2 separate regions of the Homo sapiens genome follow, and region 2 is linked to region 1. The links come from fine-mapping of genetic effects on gene expression. A gene starts in region 1. The other region holds a variant in brackets. All regions are shown on one strand. Distances are between the middles of the regions. Region 1 holds the start of HS3ST2 (heparan sulfate-glucosamine 3-sulfotransferase 2). Region 2 has its middle 89 kb from the start of HS3ST2.

Region 1 (9,553 bases):
GTTGGCATTTCAATGCATTTAGAAAAGATACACTTCCTCCACACACACATTCCCCTGCCATACCGAAACACCAGCAAAATTGAGAACACTTCAGACATATCTCAGCTTTCCCTGTGACTCTAAAAACTACTACACACAGCAAAGCTTATATCTGTTTATAAAAGATGACCCTGAAGAGTCTATTTCACATCCAAACTTCCTTAGAATGGAGAGCATCCTAAAGATAACCTTAGATTTGGAAAAACATTTTCATGTAGATAGTCTTACTTGATTTTTATAAGGTTGCAAAGCAGTTCAGGCATCATTGCCATTTCACAGGTGAGCAGACTGACACCCAGATATGTGAACTGACTTTCTGTTAACATGGAAGGAGGGAAGGAAAGAGAAAAGGAAGGGAGGAAGGGAGGAAGGAAGGAGGGAAGGAAGGAAGGAGGGAAGGAAGGAAGGAAGGAAGGAATGAAGGAAGGAAGGAAGGAAGGAAGGAAGGGAGGGAGGGAGGAAGGGAGGGAGGGAGGGAAGGAAGGAAGGAGGGAAGGAAGGAAGGAAGGAATGAAGGAAGGAAGGAAGGAAGGGAGGGAGGGAGGGAGGGAGGAAGGAAGGAGGGAAGGAAGGAAGGAGGGAAGGAAGGAAGGAAGGAAGGAAGGAAGGAAGGGAGGGAGGGAGGGAGGGAAGGAAGGAAGGAGGGAAGGAAGGAAGGAAGGAATGAAGGAAGGAAGGAAGGAAGGGAGGGAGGGAGGGAGGGAGGAAGGAAGGAGGGAAGGAAGGAAGGAAGGAAGGAAGGAAGGAAGGGAGGGAGGGAGGGAAGGAAGGAAGGAGGGAAGGAAGGAATGAAGGAAGGAAGGAAGGAAGGGAAGGAGGGAGGGAGGGAAGGAAGGAAGGAGGGAAGGAAGGAAGGCAGGCAAGGAGGGAGGGAGGAAGGAAGGAAGGAAGGAAAAGGAGAAGGGAAAGGGGAGAGAGGGAAGGAGGAAGGGAAGGGAAGGAATAAAGAGGAAAGTATGGAACTATCTTTATAGCAATTGATTAATTCCTCAGCCCGATTTAGTAACAGCAGCAGCATCAGAAACTAATATTTTTAATACTAACAGAACTAATAGTGATAACAGGAGTGTTGTAGTAATTAGTAGCAATAACAGTAGTAACATTACTGCCTTGTCTTTATATATCATAGAATTTTCCAGGGCAATTTCATGTACAGTTTTGCATTTATTCTTCACAACACGTTTCTAGGATAGTTACTACAGGTCCCATTCCATGATGAGGAAGCTGAGACTTGGGAGAATCACCTTTCTTCAAATCATACAGCACCTAGGTGACCACCTCTGGTCTTCTGACTGTGGTTCCCTGTCCTGGTTCCCTCATCAGCCTGGTGTTGCTTTGCCCACCTGTCCAAGCAGCTAGGAGATACCACCCTGCAGCTCTTACCTCGGGGAGGAAATGTGGGTGGGGGAGAACCCAGGCCAGACACATAGTTGAGGTAAGCATCAGAGATGGCATGGCAGAAAGACAGCAAATTGGAGAGAACCCACTGCAGAAGGCTGGGCTCTCTGGTAGTGGCCTGAACGGGAGTGGTTCCCAAGAAGGATCAGGCTAAGGACAAGAAGGTGCAGACTCTGTCTCCTGGTCTCTCCAAATGATGGTGTCTTTCTGGCTATATCACTCGGCCTTCAGCTTTATCTCCATTTACCCACAGAAAGAAGCCCCTCCTTTGGGTTAAGGGTAAAGCTTTTGATTTTTCCACTATCTGGATTTCAGCCTCCTGATCAGGAAGTTATCACCAGGGGCTTTGATGTGGGCAGATCATACTAAGATCCACACTGCCTGCAACTCTGCACCTCCCCCTTTGGAAAGCACAGTCCACTCCAATGGGTGCAAGGGTTCTTTGGCTATGTCTGCCCAGTGGACCCTGGCTTTATGATGGCAAGCTGTGAACTGACAAGGCAGTGGACAGAGAGCGGAACATCCTGTCACCCACCGTACCTAGCTCATGGGATTCAGGAAGAAAGTAAGAACATGGGTTTTAAAAGATTCCAGAAATCCCCATGATTTCTGCAGTTAATGTGTATGACTTGGTCATAATAAAAAGAAATGTACAAAAATGTTCTTTACATACAGAAAGATGTTCTGGAGGTTATGGAAACAGCATCTAAGTGGGGTAGTATTACCCTGCACAGAAATGGCAATCCACAAGCTAAACACTTGACTCTAGGGGTGTGGATTTGTAACTGAAAGAAGCACAAACCACACAGCCTTTTCCTGACACTGGAGCCTCCCAGCCTTCCTGGTCAAGCAATGGGGAGAGGGCAATTACGACCAGACCTCTAGGATAGTCTTTTAGAAATATAAAGTGGGGAAAGGTGGTAGAGGGGGAGAGAAGAGAGAAGCAGAGCTGTCAGCATGCTTGATGTTAAATAAAACCTACCAAGACTCAGCTGAGAATTTTAGCAGAATCCAAATGTGCTAAAAAAAAATAAATAAATAAAAAATAAGACATGGCTTCCCTCTCTAAGGTTCACAGCTAAGCTTGCTTAGAATCACACATGCCAAGGTTAAAAATAAAAAGCAGCCATCCCTGAATGACATGGGCTCCAGGATGGAAGCCTGAGGTATGCTGTTTAGTGGTGGAAGGAAGAGAGGGGAGGGAGGAGAGTCTGGGTTCAGGGCATAGGTATTTATTGGAGGGCACACTATCTGAAAGCCAGATGCTCAGAATTTTGCTGTTTTGCACTTAAAAGGCACTTCGCATTGGCAAAAGGTGTCATAATGATCTTCAGATTTTCCATCGAGGAAATGCTGGCCTGCATTCGAATGTGGTCATGGCTGACCCACTCTGGGCTCTGCTGTTCAATGTGTTTGCCTCCTCCATCCCGGGATCTGACTCAGACAGTGTCCACATGCACCTAGACGGGATGCCCATGAGTCACAGCTTGGAAAGCACAGTGGGCTATTGGCATTGGCATGAAGCCAGATCTGCCACTCTGTGCCACCCTACCCTATTAACCAGACATAATGGTGCTGGGGCCACCCACAGGCTAGCTAGCCCCTGGTTGGCTGCAATGGGGACAGACTATGTGTCTGCCTGCTAAGGATGATGCATGACCCACTCGTCCCCACAACTACAACCATTGCGAGCCAGGAGTAACCTGCAAAGGTGCTAAATCAGGCCTGCGGTCCCCCTACTTTTGGTAAATCCAGGGCCCTCTATTATAAGCCCAGTGGGGTCCTCTTTCTAACAAAGTTGTCCCTTGTCCAATATGCATATGACCTCTACTGCCTAAAGCTGTAGATAAAAACAGCAGATTTAGCCTCAGCTACTCTGTCAGCTACCATGTTACCCCTCCCCAACGTCATTACTATGCAGATGTTTCTAGAAAGTCTTCAAAGGGTCAGGTGAATTGTGAGAATTCTGTGACCTATGTGTTAACAGGGAGCCGGGACATTACACCACCCACATGTGGGCCAGTCCTACACTTCAGCACCATACAGGGCTAGGGAGGCAGAAAGGCATTGAGGCGTGGACGCTGCCACCTCACAGAAGCTTTGGTCTGTGCCTTGACTCCCCCAGTGGGGATAATTCTCCTCCCTGGCATGCATGGGAAGCATAGACAGTCTATGCATGACTGGCTGCCCCTAGCACCCTTGCTAGCCTTCACCCGCAGGGCCCACCTTCAAATTCCACATTTTGGCTGCTGGTTTAGAAGCATCACTTAAAGTGAAGTGCCTTTTTTACACCTTTAAGGCACTTCAGAAAAGCCTTGGAAGGTATACAGGGCAAGGGCTGTTTTCCTGCCCATTGGGATGGATGAGAAAATAGAGGCTGATAGAGTTTAAGAAACTTGCTCAAGCTTAAGTGACAGACCCAAGACTCGAATCCAGGGCTCTTTCCACTACTCAAAGACCACCTACCAGGGCCAGAGCTACTGGGGGTCTCAGCCCCAGTACAGCAGCAAATACCTGGGTTTGAGATTGAGACTCCCTAAGGCATCTTTCTTACTGGAGACCTCTGGCGATGCACTGTCATTTGGCCTGAACTCTGGGGACCTTTCCCAAACAGAGCCTTGCTGCAAGGGGTCTCTGAACTGCCTTATCTTTCTCAGGGTCCTTCAGGGGCTGGGTACCAGCAAAGACCTACAGAGGGTTAGGATGGTGCCGTGTTCAGGCAGCACAGGTCCTCGCCTGTCCCTTCCTTGGGCACCCTAAGGGCTGGTCACAGAGGGAGTTAGCCCTTTAGCTGGCACTTAGGTTTGACTGGAGATAATCCTTTTCCAACGACTCCAGTGACGAGGGAACGCCCTTTGCAGTTCCAGAAACTGCCCGTCTAGATTATCACTGGGAAGTTCTGGGTAAATTCTGCTATAGCCCCCCATGGCCCTGTGTGTCAGCCTGAACCCATACAATGAGTTGGGTTAAAAGAAAGAGAAAACACAAGAGACGGATGGCTCTCCCAATGGAAGCGATCAGAGACCCGGCGCACGGAGCGGAGCTCCTGGTCCTTACCTGTACCAATCCAGCCCGCGGCCGTAGTTCCTGTCAAAGAAGTGGGGTTCCGTGCCCAAGGCCCGCACGTCCGGGTGTACTCGGATAAACTCCAGCACGGCCCGGGTGCCCCCCTTCTTCACGCCCACAATGAGGGCTTGGGGCAACCGCTTGGTACCCAGCTTGGGTGAGCCGGAGTGGTTGGAACCGGAGAGGCGAGGGGCGGGCACGGCGGCGGCGGGCGCGCTGGGAGCGCTGGGCTCGCTGGGCGTCGGCCCGGAGGGATCACAGGGGCGGGACTTCTGGAGAAGTTTCTGGCCGCCCGCGCTGGGGCCGCGGAGGCAGCGAGGCGCGCCGAGGAGGCGGCTCCGACCCAGGTCGTCGCAGCAGCACAGGAAGCTGTAACACAGGTAAGTGCAGGAGAGCGAGAGCGTGAAGGCGAAGAGCAGCCTGCGCGCCCTCCGCGGCTGAGGTGGCCCCGCGCGGCCCAGGACCCTATAGGCCATGGCTCCATGGGCCCGCGCCGGGGGTCATGGTTTCCGAGGGGGCACCGGCGGCTGAGCTGCTGTGGCCCTGCGGTCGCCTAGAGGGCTCGCGTGGCGCTGCCACGGCCACGCGGGTCGGGCGTTGGGGGCGCCGTCTTCTCCGGGGGCTGCTGACCAGGGTGCGCACAGTGCCAGGGGGTCCCGGGGGCAGCGGCTCCTCGGGGAACAGGCGGTTGCATTTCCAGCATCTCCCGGTCCTAGGCGATGGGGCTCCGGGCAGCCGGGCGGCTCGGGCGCTCCCAGGCTCTTACGTGCGCCGGGTTCGGAGCGCGCCCAGCGCCCGAAGCCCCATTCCTGATCCTCGGAGCGCCGCTCACGAAACGCTCGGCGGCGGCGCGGCTGTGCGGGCTGGCGGGTGGACCGGACGGTGGCGCTGGCGCCGGCCGCGATCTGGCTCTTCGGGAAATGCCGAGCGGAGCGCGCTGCCGGCTCTATTTAAGGAGTGGCCTGACGTCAGCCGCGCGGGTCCCCCGAGCCCGCGCCGCGCCCAGGGACCTGGCCCGCCCCCTGCGCCCCCACTCTCTTACCCCTCCCAGAAACACAGCACGCGGGCCCTCCCCATGCAGGCCACTCCCTACGGAGCCCCAGGCCAGCTTTGGGGCGGTGAAACGAAGGTGTCAAGGCATAGTACTCCTCCGGGAGGCTGGACACCCCCACCACGCTGGCCTCTCGACATCCAGGGACACGAATCCAGGTCGAGATCGCGCCGACATGCAGACCAGACAGACCCAGACGCAGACGCAGGCACCCTGCCCTGATGCGCGGTCCCACCACCCTGACCCGCACACGCACGCACAGGCACAGAAGCACACGCGCCCTAGCCCGGACACACCCCCACACCCACGCGGGGGTGGGGAGGAGAAGTCCCCTAACCTGGGCCCAGATACACCGACAAGGACACTCCCCCCGCTCTCGACATCTCGCCAAATGGACACACACAGCCCGGAATCGGACACCGAGCGCACGCACGCCCTGGACTGGGACACGCGCTGTAGACGGGATGGGTGGAGGAGCCGAGCGTGAGTGAGATTCCGTGACTATTCACCCAGCTTCTTAGCCCCCAGCGCGCTGACTCACACCCCGGCGGCTCGCTCTGTCTCGCACCTATGAGGCACGCGCGCACCCCAACCCATTGTCACCCCACCTCTCCCCGGGCCTGCCGGAGAGCGAGCCCCGGAGCGGCAGACTCCGCGTCAGGAGGGTTCCTCTCTTAGCAGCCGCCGCCTAGCGGTAGACTGCTCCCCGGGGAGCTGTCCAGGGTACCAGAGGGTCGCCGAGGGCTGAGTGAGGAGGGCTTCTTCACACAGAGACACTAGGAGGAGGAAACAGAGTACAAGGAGAACGTATCCAGGAGCAATTCCACTTCGAATGATTCCTAAGTGAATGCCTACAGGACAGTTCTCGGTGACCATGTCCAGAACAGGCATAAGTGACGATCCCCAGTACTTCCCTGAGGGACCACACTGGTACCTTGGATCAGAACCCTGCATCAGAACAGGCCTAAATGGCCATGGCTAAGAACACGGCTGAGTTGTCCTTCAACAGCAATGCCAATGCCAATTCACCATGTCCGAGTGTTCACAAGGTGAGTGCCCTCCACCACCACCCAGCCATAGAATGTCTAGATGACCACCATGACCCCCACCCTGATCAGGGTATAACTGACTTCCTTCCTCAGGCTGTAAACTGATCATTAGGTTCTGTGGATCTTAGCCCAAACCAGAAAATATTTTGTCCCCAAACTAGTCCCATCCCTAGAAACCTTAAACCAATTCTACGGCAGATAATAATAATAGCTGCCAACTTTGTATCAAGCACCTGGCATGGGTTAACTGATTAAATATTCACAACCTATGAAGTTGTTACCATTACCCTGGCATCACTTTGCTGTCTTAATTCTAATAGTAGCTAGCATTTATTGAGTGCTTGTTTTATGGGAGTTATGCGCTAATCACTTGACATGCACTACCTCATTTATCTTTGGAGATAGGTATTATTGTAATTTCTAATCTACAGGCAGTGATAAGAAGATTTAACAAACATATACACAGTAACTGGCAGAGCTGGGATTAAACCCGGGCAGTCTTGACTCCAAGATTCAAGCTCTTAGTTACAGCACTTTGCAGCTTCCTAACTTCCTTTGACCATTATTCATATAATTCCATCCTAGGCTCCTCTCCTGGATGTAAGCTAATTTGTCTATGTCTCTTCTAAAATCTCACACCTGGGACTGCGCGAGGAATTTCAGATATGGATTGAAAAGTTCAACAGGACTCTCACCTCTCTTTTGTAAGTTCTATTTCTAGTAATGCCACCTAAGACTCCATTATCTTTTTCTTGTGGCTATATCACACTGCTGACATCTCAAACTTGCAGCCAAGTAACATCTCTAAATGTTTCTTACAAGTGCTGCTGATTAAGGCACAGCTACCCCATACTGTGCTTGTACAGTGGGCCTTTTTGGACCCAATGTGTAGGTCCTTATAGATTTGACTTGATTGCATTTCATCTTGTCTCATCAGTTCGCTGCCCTAGTTTTTTTTAAATGTCTATTTGAAGTCAAACCACGAGGTAGCTTTCATTTATTCAAAAAGAAAAAGTAGAAAGATTGTATCCCAGCTTTACCCTTTATTCCAGGTGTACTTTGGGCAAGTGGACCCCCTTTAAGCCTCAGGTTCCTCAGCTGTAAAATGGGACGCTATGATTCACCTTAAAAGTCTCTCAAAGTTTAGATGTTGCATGATTCTATGATTCCATTACCCAAAGCATGAACCACTCACTTGGCATCATGTAATTTCCACAGTTGATCACAATTTAATTAATTCCTCATTCTAATTGTTAATAAAAATGTCAAAACAAATATACTTAAAGGAGTTCTTCTTCTTCTTTTGGGTGAGGGGAAGTGTCTCACTCTGTTGACCATGCTGGCATGCAGTAGTGCAATCATAGCTCATGCTGCAGCCTCCACTTCCTGGGCTCAAGGGATCCTCCTGCCTCAGCCTCCTGAGTAGCTAGGACTACAGGCATGTGCCACCACACCTAGCTAGTTTTTTAATTTTTTGTAGAGATGAAGTCTTACTGTGTTGCCCAAGCTGGTCTTGAACTCCTGAGCTCAAGTGATCCTCCTGCCTCAGCTTCCCAAAGTGCTAGAATTACAGACATGAGCCACAATGCCTGGCCTGGAAGGAGCTCTTATATATACTTTGAACAATTATTCACATCATGAACCTGCTATTTTTGTATTCCATTGTTAAAATTACAAGGTTAAATGTGGAGTCATCTGCTGTGATCAGTACTATTTCCCTTAGAAAATAAAACATGAATATAATGATTTCTCATAATTCTGTGCTTGGCTTAATTTTTAAATAATTTTTAACCTTTGAATTCATAAACTGTGATATCCCTGGGTACTCACATATATCAAAACCAGGAAGATTTTCCTCTTCAAATTTCCAATCAGAGTAATGACTGACTTGGATAGAATTTTTTAGGAAGTGAGACATTGGACATACCTGCCCATCTCCTAAACCTTTATCTGTTTACAGTAGCAAACGTGATTCTGCTTTGGGGGTATCAGGTAGGATTATGCTGGGTTGTGTAGTTTGTCAATTAACACCCACTTAAGCAAGGTATATGTTTATTTTTGTAATCACATGAAAGTCCAGATGAAGGTACTTTAGGGCTTGTATGGAAGCTCCAAAGTGTTTGGGACCCAGGCTCCCTCTATCTTGTTACTCTACCATGCATTTCCTCCATTCTAAAGTCACCACATAGTCTACAATGACTTATTCATCTGCAGCCAGAATGTTCACATTCTGGTCATTAGTAAATATGTAAAGACATGCCATATCTGTTTAAGGACATTTCTTGGAAGTTGCCTGTATTATTTCAACTCGTATTCAATTTGACAGCATTTTATCATTTGACTTTCTAGCTTCAAGAGATGCTTCAAAATGCAGTCTTGATTCTGGATGGCTGTATGCCTGGCTAACACTTTGAGATTTTGGTATCAAGAAAGAACTAAAGAATGGTTATGGAGGACAACTAGTAATCCTTGCCATCCTTGGACAAACAGTTTTCCCTCTTTTATTCCCATGTGGTTTGTATGGGTTGAACATAGTTCAAAGACAGGCATATGACCAAGCCTGACATCATCACTTTCTAATTATATTTCAAGAACTGAAAGTAACTCAAATCTTTCTAGTGAGAATAAACCACACAACATTTGTGAAAACTATTGGAAAAGAGAAACTTCTTTTTCTGAGATGATGAATTAATCTAAAATAAGCCTGAAGCTTCCAATGGTCATCTCTGCTATCAAGAGGAGAAACCAACAATAAAGCCAACAAAGAGGAGAGCAGAACTGATGGAGGGAGAATTAGATTCCTGATAATATCCTTTGAACCTCTGAATCTAGCCATGCGGAATGCATGGACCCTGGACTTTATTGCTGCAGTGATTAGCTATCTTTCTGTTAGCACTTGCAACTGAAAGAGTGCTGACCAATACAACAAACAAACAAAAAGAGTTGCTCC
Region 2 (9,553 bases), 89 kb after region 1:
CTCGCATCCACAGTTTACAACAGGGTTTGCCCTCCTATGAGAATCTAATGCTGCTGATGATCGACAGGGACGGAGCTCAGGTGGTAGTGTTCATTCACCCGCCGCTCACCTCCTGCTATGCAGCCCGGTACCGGTCCCAGGGGTTGGGGACCCCTGTTCTAAACTTTGATGGTCACAGTAGGGATATCCTATAATGTAATTTAATTAGACCCTTACTGTTGGACATTTGGTTGTTCCAGATTTTTTAAGTGTTATAAATAATACGGCAGTAAACATCTTGTATGTGCATCTCGGATTATTTCCCCAGTGCAAATTCTTTGCTGTGAAATTCTGGGTCAAGAACTAGATGTATCTGTTTTAATCTACATTAACACAGAAAAAAAGTTTATGTTAAGAAAAAACAAGATGAAATAACATGATTCATTTTTGCATATGTATAAAGAAAATACACAATACACAATTGATATATGTACATATATCTCTATGTATATACCTATATATGTATCTGTATATAGATATAGGTATCTATGCCTTTACCTATATATTTATGATATAAAAGATTTAGAAGATACACACCAAAAAGTTAACAATCCTCTTCTCAACATGGTGCAATCTGGAGTCATTTTTATTTCCTTCCTTTTGCTTCTATTTTCTAAGATGTTTATTCTGGTGGATGCTGTGGTGTGCCACCCAGATCCCCACTGCTGGCCTGATGAACTCCTTCCTCAGCTGCTGGGAACATTAGCCACTAACAACTCTCAGCCGAAACACTTTCCAAGAATTGTCCTCAGCTGAGAGCAGCCTCACTCAGGGTCACACACCTTTCTTGGGGATATCTACATCCAATAACTGGTCCCTTTCCCTAATCCCAGTTCCCGAGTTTTCCCGCGATCAGCTTAAGCCTCTGTTGCAACTGCATCACAGCCCAATTTCTTCCTCTGCCAGGCCTGCTTTCCTCCCTCCCTGAGTTGTGTGATTCCAAGGGTACTCCCTAGTAAACTGTATGCAAATTCCTCTCTTAGAGTCCACCTTCCAGGTTAGCCAAACTACAACATGTAAAAGGAACACTTACTAATTTGGCAATGAGTAAAACTTTTAATTAAAAAATTATTTTTCTTTAAAAATACCCTCCTGGTTTGGGTCTAGATGACCTTCCACTATGAAAAATTGTCCACTCTCCAAAGTGACCAGTGATGTAGTATGATATCTTCCCCAGGTCACCCTGGGAAAAGTACTGAAGGCAATTAATCAATTAGTCTCTTCATCTTCCAATAAATCCCCTCCCAGTGGTGCCTGACCCTGACCAGCTGACATTTCCATAATCCACTTGCCATCTTACGTGTCTTAAATGACTTCTCGTTGTCCCAAACTTGGAGATTTTAATCTCGTATATTAAGCCAGCAGGGCCCAGTAATTCCCTGAATGCATTTTTATTGACTTTGTAAATCAGACTTCCCCACATCAGGGCCTGTGACCAGGAAAGAGGTGTTTGTCTGTGAAATTGGCTGGACACAGACCATTGACTGTGATGATAACCAGTGATTTGTGAAGCCAGATAGACAAGCCACATGCACTAAGCAGATTAAAATATAACAAAACAAAAAGGTTCCATTACCAGGAATACTGTCAAAGGGCAGCAGGATGTTTGTGATAAAAGACGAAAACAAACTAATTCCAAGTCTGGAAGGAAGCCCAAAATAACACTTTGCTGTCTCTTCAGTCTGCCAAAGAGAAAGTGTGGGAATGCTAAACACAGCTAAGTAAACCAATTTCTGAAAGCTCTTTAGCAAAAGTCAGAAAAAGCTTGGCTCTCTCCCTACCTGGGCTCTCATTCACAAGGTTGTTCACACCTCCTTGCCTTCTGTGACAGGAATTGTTTACAAAAAGGTGCAGTAACAATTTTAAACAGGTTCAAAGAAGGACACTCTTCTGCGGGTCTCCCTCTCACTGAAGATAAAAATCAAATACAATCTTAGTCTGTCACCAGTTCTGACTTCATCTTCTGTTATTCTTACTCTTAACCCACTCCTTGCCAGCCACATTGGCTTCTTGGCTGTTACTCCACTAACACTAGCACATTCTGGCCTCAGGGTCTTTGAACTTGCTGTTCCTCTTACCTGTCATGCTCTTCCCACAGACATCTCCAATTCTACCTTACTCACGTCACTCTGATAAATGCAATGTCAGGTGATTTTGTCATTGTGCAAACATCATCGAGTGTACTTACGCAAACCTAGACGGTAGAGCCTCCTACATATCTAGGCTACATGGTATATAGCCGATTGCTCCTAGGCTAAAAACCTGCACAGCATGTTGTGGTACTGAATACTGTAGGCAACTGTAACACAATGGTAAGTATTTGTGTATCTAACCAAAGAAAACGTGCGGTAAAAATACGGTATTATAATCTTATGGGACTATCATCATACAAATGCAGTCTGTCATTGACCGAGACATTGTCATGCAGCACATGACTGTACTTATTGTGAACTGATATCGTATTACAATATTTGTATGCTTGCTTGTTTATTTTAAGCCTTGTTCCTCCAGAGAAGAGAATTGTCTCTTTTGTTCACTGCTATATCCCCAGTGCCTAGCACAGTAAATGCTCAAATATTTGTTGAATAAATGAATTATGTATTTTTTACTTCCTTTTCTTTTATCTCCATCTAAATGGCCTAATTCATTCATATATTTGTTCAACTAATGTTTGTTGAGCACCTACAACAAGCCAGGCATTGTGCTGAGTGCTGGCTCTTATAAGGATTATATGATGATATGTATAAAATTGTAATGCTCACTTAAAATTTAAGGTGCAACTTGGTAATAGTGTCCAAGACAGTTGTTGAAAAGAATTGTATTTGTGTCTTTTTGGTAGACTAAATAGGAAGATAAGTATCTTGCATTTAATGACAAAATGATTATCCACAATTGCTTAACCTCCTCCTCTGGATTAACTATTTACACTCTATTACATCCTGGACCTTGTCATGCCTGTACCATCTCTGATCATAACTTCTGGTCTTTCCAAAGCAGAGGCTGCTGACTGTCCATCACTGCTAATTCTCTGCAGATACTTGGCTGCTTAGCTGAGATGACATCTACACTTCCCAGCATCCCTTGCAGGTTGGTGCCTACACATGACTAATTCCTGCTCAATGGATGTGAGCTCAAGTGACGTGTACATTTTTTAGTTGTCTAGACCAGCACTGTCCAACAGAAATATAACATGAGCCACATATGTAATTCTGAATTTTCTAGTAGCTGTATTTTTTAAAAGTAAAAAGAAACAAGGGAAATTAACTTCAATAATATATTTTATTTAACCCAAAATGTCTAAAATATTATCATTTCAACATGTAAGCAATATAAGAAAGTATTAATCAGATACCTTATATTGTTTTCTTCCACGCTCAGTCTTCAAAATCCAGTGGGTATTTTACACTCACAGCACATTTCAATGAAGATGCTACATTTTCATTAGAAATAGTTGATCTGGGCTGGGCACAGTGGCTCATGTCTGTAATCTCAGCACTTTGGGAGGCAAAGGCAGGTGGATCACCTGAACCCAGGAGTTCGAGATCAGCCTGGGCAACATGAGGAAACCCCGTTTCTATAAAAAATACAAAAATTAGCTGGGCATGGTGGAGCACACCTGTGGTCCCAGCTCCTAGGGAGGCTGAGGTGGGAGGATCACCTGAGCCCAGGAGGTCAAAGCTGCAGTCCTCTATAATTGTGTCACTGCACTCCAGCCTGGGTGACAGTGCAAGTCCCTGTCTCAAAAAGAAAGAGAAAGAAAAAGAGAAAAAGAAAGAAAGAAAGAAAGAAAGAAAGAAAGAAAGAAAGAAAGAAAGAAAGAAAGAAAGAAAAGAAAAAGAAAGAAAGAAAGAGAAAGAAAAAGAAAAAGGAAGCGGGGGAGGAAGAAAGGAAGGAAGGGAGAGTTGATCTGTATTTCAGTTTTATACAATTTGTAGTTGAAAAAGCACATTCAATATATCCAAGTTATTCAAACATCCTTAAAAGTTATTCAAACATCCTTAAAAATAAGTGAATGGAGTATGATTTTTCAAAATGTAAATTTAAACTAATTAGAATGAAATTAAATACAAAATTCACGTCCTCATTCTCACTTGCCATATTTCAAGTGCGCAATAGCCACAGATGGTCGCCATGGCAGACAGCTCAGGTGCAGATCCTAGAAAAGGTAGCCATGCACTGCTCTGTGCAATCCTTCTTCCCATTGGCTGGGAGGTGCTAACAACTGGAGAAGCTGGGCTAGAGATGGTAACTATGTATCGGGGTTGGCAAACCCTTCTCACCCACCTCTGAACTGTTATGTGGGAAGAAATAAACTTCCATTCTGTTTAAACCTCTGTATTTTCTGGTCCTTCTGTTGCAGCAGCTTCTCCTATACCTTCCATAATACACCTTTCAGCACTTTTGTTTCAACTGTTTCCTAAGCTCCCTGGAGACTTCCAATACCTCCCACTCCCAAACCTTTATCTTGGCTTGATCTCTAAAAGCAATAATTATTAGTAGTAATATCATCAGTACTAGTATTTCCCAGCTTACACTTCCATTAGAGCATTACTTCAATCACTCCACAATATTTCAGCCACTATCTCAAAAATTGCTCAGCCTCAGACTCCAATGGGTAGAGATTGCCTGGGTTTGAATTGAGGCTCCACCACCGTGATGGTTAATTTCATGCATCTACTTGACTGGTCTATGGGATGCTCAGACATTTGTCAAGCATTATTCTACAAGTGTCTACGAGGGTGTTTCTGATGAGACTGACATTTGAATAGGTAAACTGAGTAAAGCAGATTTTCCTCCCTAATGTGGGCAGGCCTTGTCCAATCAGTTAAAGGCAGAAATAGAATAGAAAGTCTGGCATTTCCATAAGTGAGAGGGAATTCCTTCTGCTTGACAGTTCTTTCAACTGGGACATTTGTTCTTTCCTATCTTCAGACTGAAAGTGCAGCATGTGCTCTTTCTGGCTATAAAGGTTACCAGCGTTCAGACTGTAACTACACCATCAGCTCTCCTGGATCTCCAGCTTGCTGATAGCAGATCTTGGGACTTGTCAGCCTCCATAATCACATGAGCCAATTCTGAATGAGTGAATGAATGAATGAATATCCTATTGGTTCC[G/A]TTGTTTCTCTGGAGAACCCTGAGTAACACTGACTACTCACTGACTATGTAACCTCTCTGTGCCTCAGTTTCCTCATTTTTTAAATAGGGAAAATAATAATCCTCTATTAAATGTTAGTTATCATTATTGTTGTTGTTATTATTACAACATACTGCCAAGCACTGCTAGGGGAAAAGCATACATCATACAAGCACAAATGTGGAGACTTCAAATTCAACTCCAGTTTTGCTGGGTCACTCAGCATTCAGGGAAATCCTTTTTTTAAAATTTGAAATAGAGATAATTTAATTTATGAAGTCGTTTATGCAGATGTTAGAAGAGCTCATAAGCCTCAGGTAAGAGGAGATGTTTTTGCCATTCTTTCACTACAGGGGGAAAAGCAGAAGGCAGAGTTACTGGACGGGAATAAATGAGGACAACCCGGAACTGCGTGGAGGAACCTGGAGTCATGGAAGAGAAGTAGCTGCTGATGGAAACCACACTTAAAGCACAGGGAAAAAAAAGGGAGAAATACTCGCCTTTTTGCCTTATTCTGCCTTCCAAGCTCCAGCCAGTTCTTAATAGGGGCCATATGCTGCCAAGATTTAGCTGACAAGGTAGCCTGGGAAACACTACCTGCAGGGGTGAAGACCTGCCATACACATAGAGCAAGGGAATCACGAAGAATGGATCAGGAAGCACAAGGCCATGCACTATGTAGGCATACAATAGTTGTCTCACACTGAGCAAATGCAAAACCTACCTGCTGATGTTTATCCATGATCCTACTTCGCTCACAATTAGTGCGCCTCAGTGGAAACATCATCTTTTTTTTTTTCACTTTTTTTTTTTTTAACTGTACTTTCAGTTCTGGGATACATGTGCGGAATGTGCAGGTTTGTTACATACGAATACATGCGCCATGGTGGTTTGCCACACCCATCAACCCATCATCTACATTAGGTATTTCTCCTAATGCTATCCCTCCCTGGGAAATCCATTTATACTCCCCTTGTCATCTCCCTCTCCTGTACCCCTCAGCAGCTGATGAGCTTGAAACCCACGTGATCACTTCTCTGTCCCCTAAGTTGGCCCCAGCCCCCTTGGATTGGACCCTGCCTTCCATTTTGTAGAGAAAAGTATGGCTCTCAGCCATGAACTTGTTAATTAATTTTGTTTCATACCCTTATCCTTTTCATCTTGCGCCCTCTCCCTCCTTAGGGACATTCTTCCCCCATTAACTTTTTGGTTTTTTTTTTTTTTTTTTTTTTCCTTTTTGACACGGAGTCTTGCTCTGTCATCCAGGCTGGAGTGTAGTGCAATCTTGACTCATTGCAACCTCCTCCTCCCAGGTTCAAGTTCTTCTCGTGCCTCAGCCTCAGCCTCTGGAGTAGCTGGGATTACAGGTGTGTGCCACTACACCCGGTTAATTTTTGTATTTTTAGTAAAGATGGGGTTTCACCATGTTGGCCAGGCTGGTCTCGAACTCCTGACCTCAAGTGATCTACCCGCCTTGGCCTCCCAAAGTGCTGGTGAGAGGTGACAGCGTGTTGGCAGCCCTGGCAGCCCTCGTATCCCTCGTTTGCTCTCAGAGCCTCCTCGGCCTTGGTGTCCGCTCTGGCCATGCTCGAGGAGCCCTTCAGCCCACCACTGCGCTGTGGAGGCCCCTCTCTGGGCTGGCCGAGGCCAGAGCCGGCTCCCTGAGCTTGCGGGGAGGTGTGGAGGGAGAGGCACGGGCAGGAACCGAGGCTGCGTGCGGCGCTTGCTGGCCAGCGCGAGTTCCAGGTAGGCGTGGGCTCAGCGGGCCGGCACTCGGAGCTGCTGGCCAGCGCCACCGGCCCCGGGTGGTAAGGGGCGTAGCACTCAGGCCAGCAGCTGTGGAGGGTGCGACGGGTGCCCCAGGAGTGCCCGCCGGCCGACATTGCGCTCAAATTCTCACCAAGCCTCAGCTGCCTCCCCACGTGGGCTCCTGCGTGGCCGAGCCTCCCCGACAAGCTCCGCTCCCTGCTCCACGGCACCCGGTCCCATCCACCGCCCAAGGGCTGAGGAGTGTGGGCGCAGGCTAGGCGCGGGACTAGTGGGCAGCTCCACTGGTGGCCCTGGTGCGGGATCCACTGGGTGAAGCCAGCTGGGCTCCTGAGTGTAGTGGGGACTTCGAGAACCTTTATGTCTAGCTAAGGGATTGTAAATACACCAATCAGCACTCTGTGTCTAGCTCAAGGATTGTAAATGCACCAATCAGCACCCTGTGTCTAGCTCAGGGTTTGTGAATGCACCAATCAGTGCTCTGTGCCTAGCTAATCTAGCGGGACTTGGAGAACTTTTGTGTCTAGCTCAGGGATTGTAAACGCACCAATCAGCACCCTGTCAAAACAGACCAACCAGCTCTCTGTAAAACAGACCAATGAGTTCTCTGTAAAATGGACCAATCAGCAGGATGTGGGTGGGGCTAGATAAGGGAATAAAAGCAGCCAGCAGCAGCTGCCCGAGCCAGTAGTGGCTACCTGCTCAGGTCGTATTCCACGCTGTAGAAGCTTTGTTCTTTGGCTCTTTGCAAAAAATCTTGCTGCTGCTCAGTCTTTGGGTCTGCACTACCTTTACGAGCTGTAACACTCACTGCCAAGGTCTGCAGCTTCACTCTTGAAGCCAGCGAGACCATGAACCCACCATGAGAAATGAACAACTATGGATGTGCTGCCTTTAGAGCTGTAAACACTCACTGTGAAGGTCTGCGACTTCACTCCTGAAACCAGCGAGATCACAAACCCACTAGAAGGAAGACACTCCGAACGTATCCAAACATCAGAAGGAACGAATTCTGGACACATCACCTTTAAGAACTGTAACACCACGAGGGTCCGCGGCTTCATTCTTGAAGTCAGTGAGACCAAGCACCCACTAAGTCTGGACACACGGGGATTACAGGCATCAGCCACCGTGCCCAGTCCACTTTTCCTTCTTTTTCAGGTTCTAGCCTCTCCCTTTCCCATTGCTCCTTCTACTTTAACCAAAAATCAGGCCTGAGGCCATCATGTTAGAGGCATGGCTGGGTCCTCCTCCTCCCTGGTGCCCGATTCTCCTCCTACCCCACTTGTCAAGCTCTCTCAAATGCTGATCTGCACCTGCCATTTCCTGGCTTTAGTGCCACTCCCTCCAGAGCAGCTGGTGAAAGGAAATGAGCCATGCAGATTGCTGGGGTCGGAATATTCTAGACAGAGGGATCAAAATGCGCAGGTTCGGAGGTGGGAGTGTGCTTGGTTTCGTTGAGGAACAAACATCCAGGCCAGTGTGGAACAGAGGGAGAAAGGAAGAGCGTCTTGGCAGTGAAACCCAGGCAGCAGCTGTGGTCCAGATGTGGCAGCAGGGAGTTGGCTTTGACTCTGAAGTGGAGAGGTATGGGGGCGGTGGGGGGGAGGTGTGTGGTTAGAATACAAGTGGTGTGCTCTGACTTACATTTTAAATGTCTCCTTTGGCAGAGAGGCAATAGCAGAAACAGGGAGACCCATCAGAAGGCAATTACAATAACGCAGGCAAGAGAAGACAGGGCTTAGATCGGAATGGAAGCATCGCAGGCATCGAGAGATGCAGTCTAATTGGATATATTTTGAAGGCAGAGCCAAGAGAATCATCTGGTTCTATGGACATGGACTGTCCGAGAAAGAGAAACATGAAGGATGCCCCCAAGGCTTTGTCCTTCCTCACCTGCCACCCACCCATATTGCTGCCACCTGCGGCCACCTGGCCTCCTTCCCCAGGGCTGTCATAAGCGTTGCTTTTATAACAGCCTAAAATGTAAAACTCTAGCCTAAATTTGTCCCTAAAATTGCAAAGGTAAATATATATAATAAGATAATCATAGCAGGAAGACAGGGAAGAGAAAAAAAATGTGGCCGGGCACTGTGACTCACGCCTGTAATCCCAGCACTTTGGGAGGCCAAGGCAGGTAGATCACCTGAGGTCAGGAGCTTGAAATCACCCTGGCCAACATGGCGAAACCCTGTCTCTACTAAAAATACAAAATTAGCCGAACGTGGTGGTACATGCCTGTAATTCCAGCTACTGCAGAGGCTGAGGCAGGAGAATCACTTGAAACCGGGAGGCAGAGGTTGCAGTGAGCTGAGATCCTGCCATTGCACTCTAGCCTGGAAAACAAGAGTGAAACTCTGTCTCAAAAAAAAAGAAAAAGGAATGTAGTGAAAAATTAGTTAAATCCTCATCCGTCATGGCTGGCAGTCAATACATAATGTCCACAATTGATAAATCAAGAAACAACAGTTTTTGCATATTATGTAGAGATGTGGAGGTAACTACTAGAAGAAATATTTTGACCGGGTGCAGTGGCTCACACCAGCACTTTGGGAGGCCAAGGCGGGCAGAGCACATGAGGTCAGGAGTTCAAGACTAGCCTGCTCAACACAG

What was found. PIP is the estimated chance that this variant, and not a neighbour inherited with it, causes the effect. A credible set is the group of variants that fine-mapping cannot tell apart.
Region 2: its variant is the best candidate, but not a certain one, in a credible set for the expression of HS3ST2 in lung (GTEx, PIP 0.51).

The regions. Positions count from the first base shown.
Region 1 is chr16:22,810,037-22,819,589 of GRCh38, reverse strand. HS3ST2 (heparan sulfate-glucosamine 3-sulfotransferase 2) reads right to left here and starts at 5,428. Exons shown (of 2, transcript NM_006043.2): 1 at 4,495-5,428. The coding sequence starts at 4,979. It overlaps LOC107984851 (collagen alpha-1(XVI) chain), which reads left to right and starts at 4,731. Exons shown (of 4, transcript XR_001752349.2): 1 at 4,731-4,883; 2 at 6,326-6,603; 3 at 7,189-7,307; 4 at 8,953-9,553.
Region 2 is chr16:22,720,630-22,730,182 of GRCh38, reverse strand. No RefSeq gene overlaps it. Among named protein-coding and RNA genes, the nearest start is that of HS3ST2, 89 kb to the left of the region's middle. The variant G/A (reference allele first, on the strand shown) is at 5,155.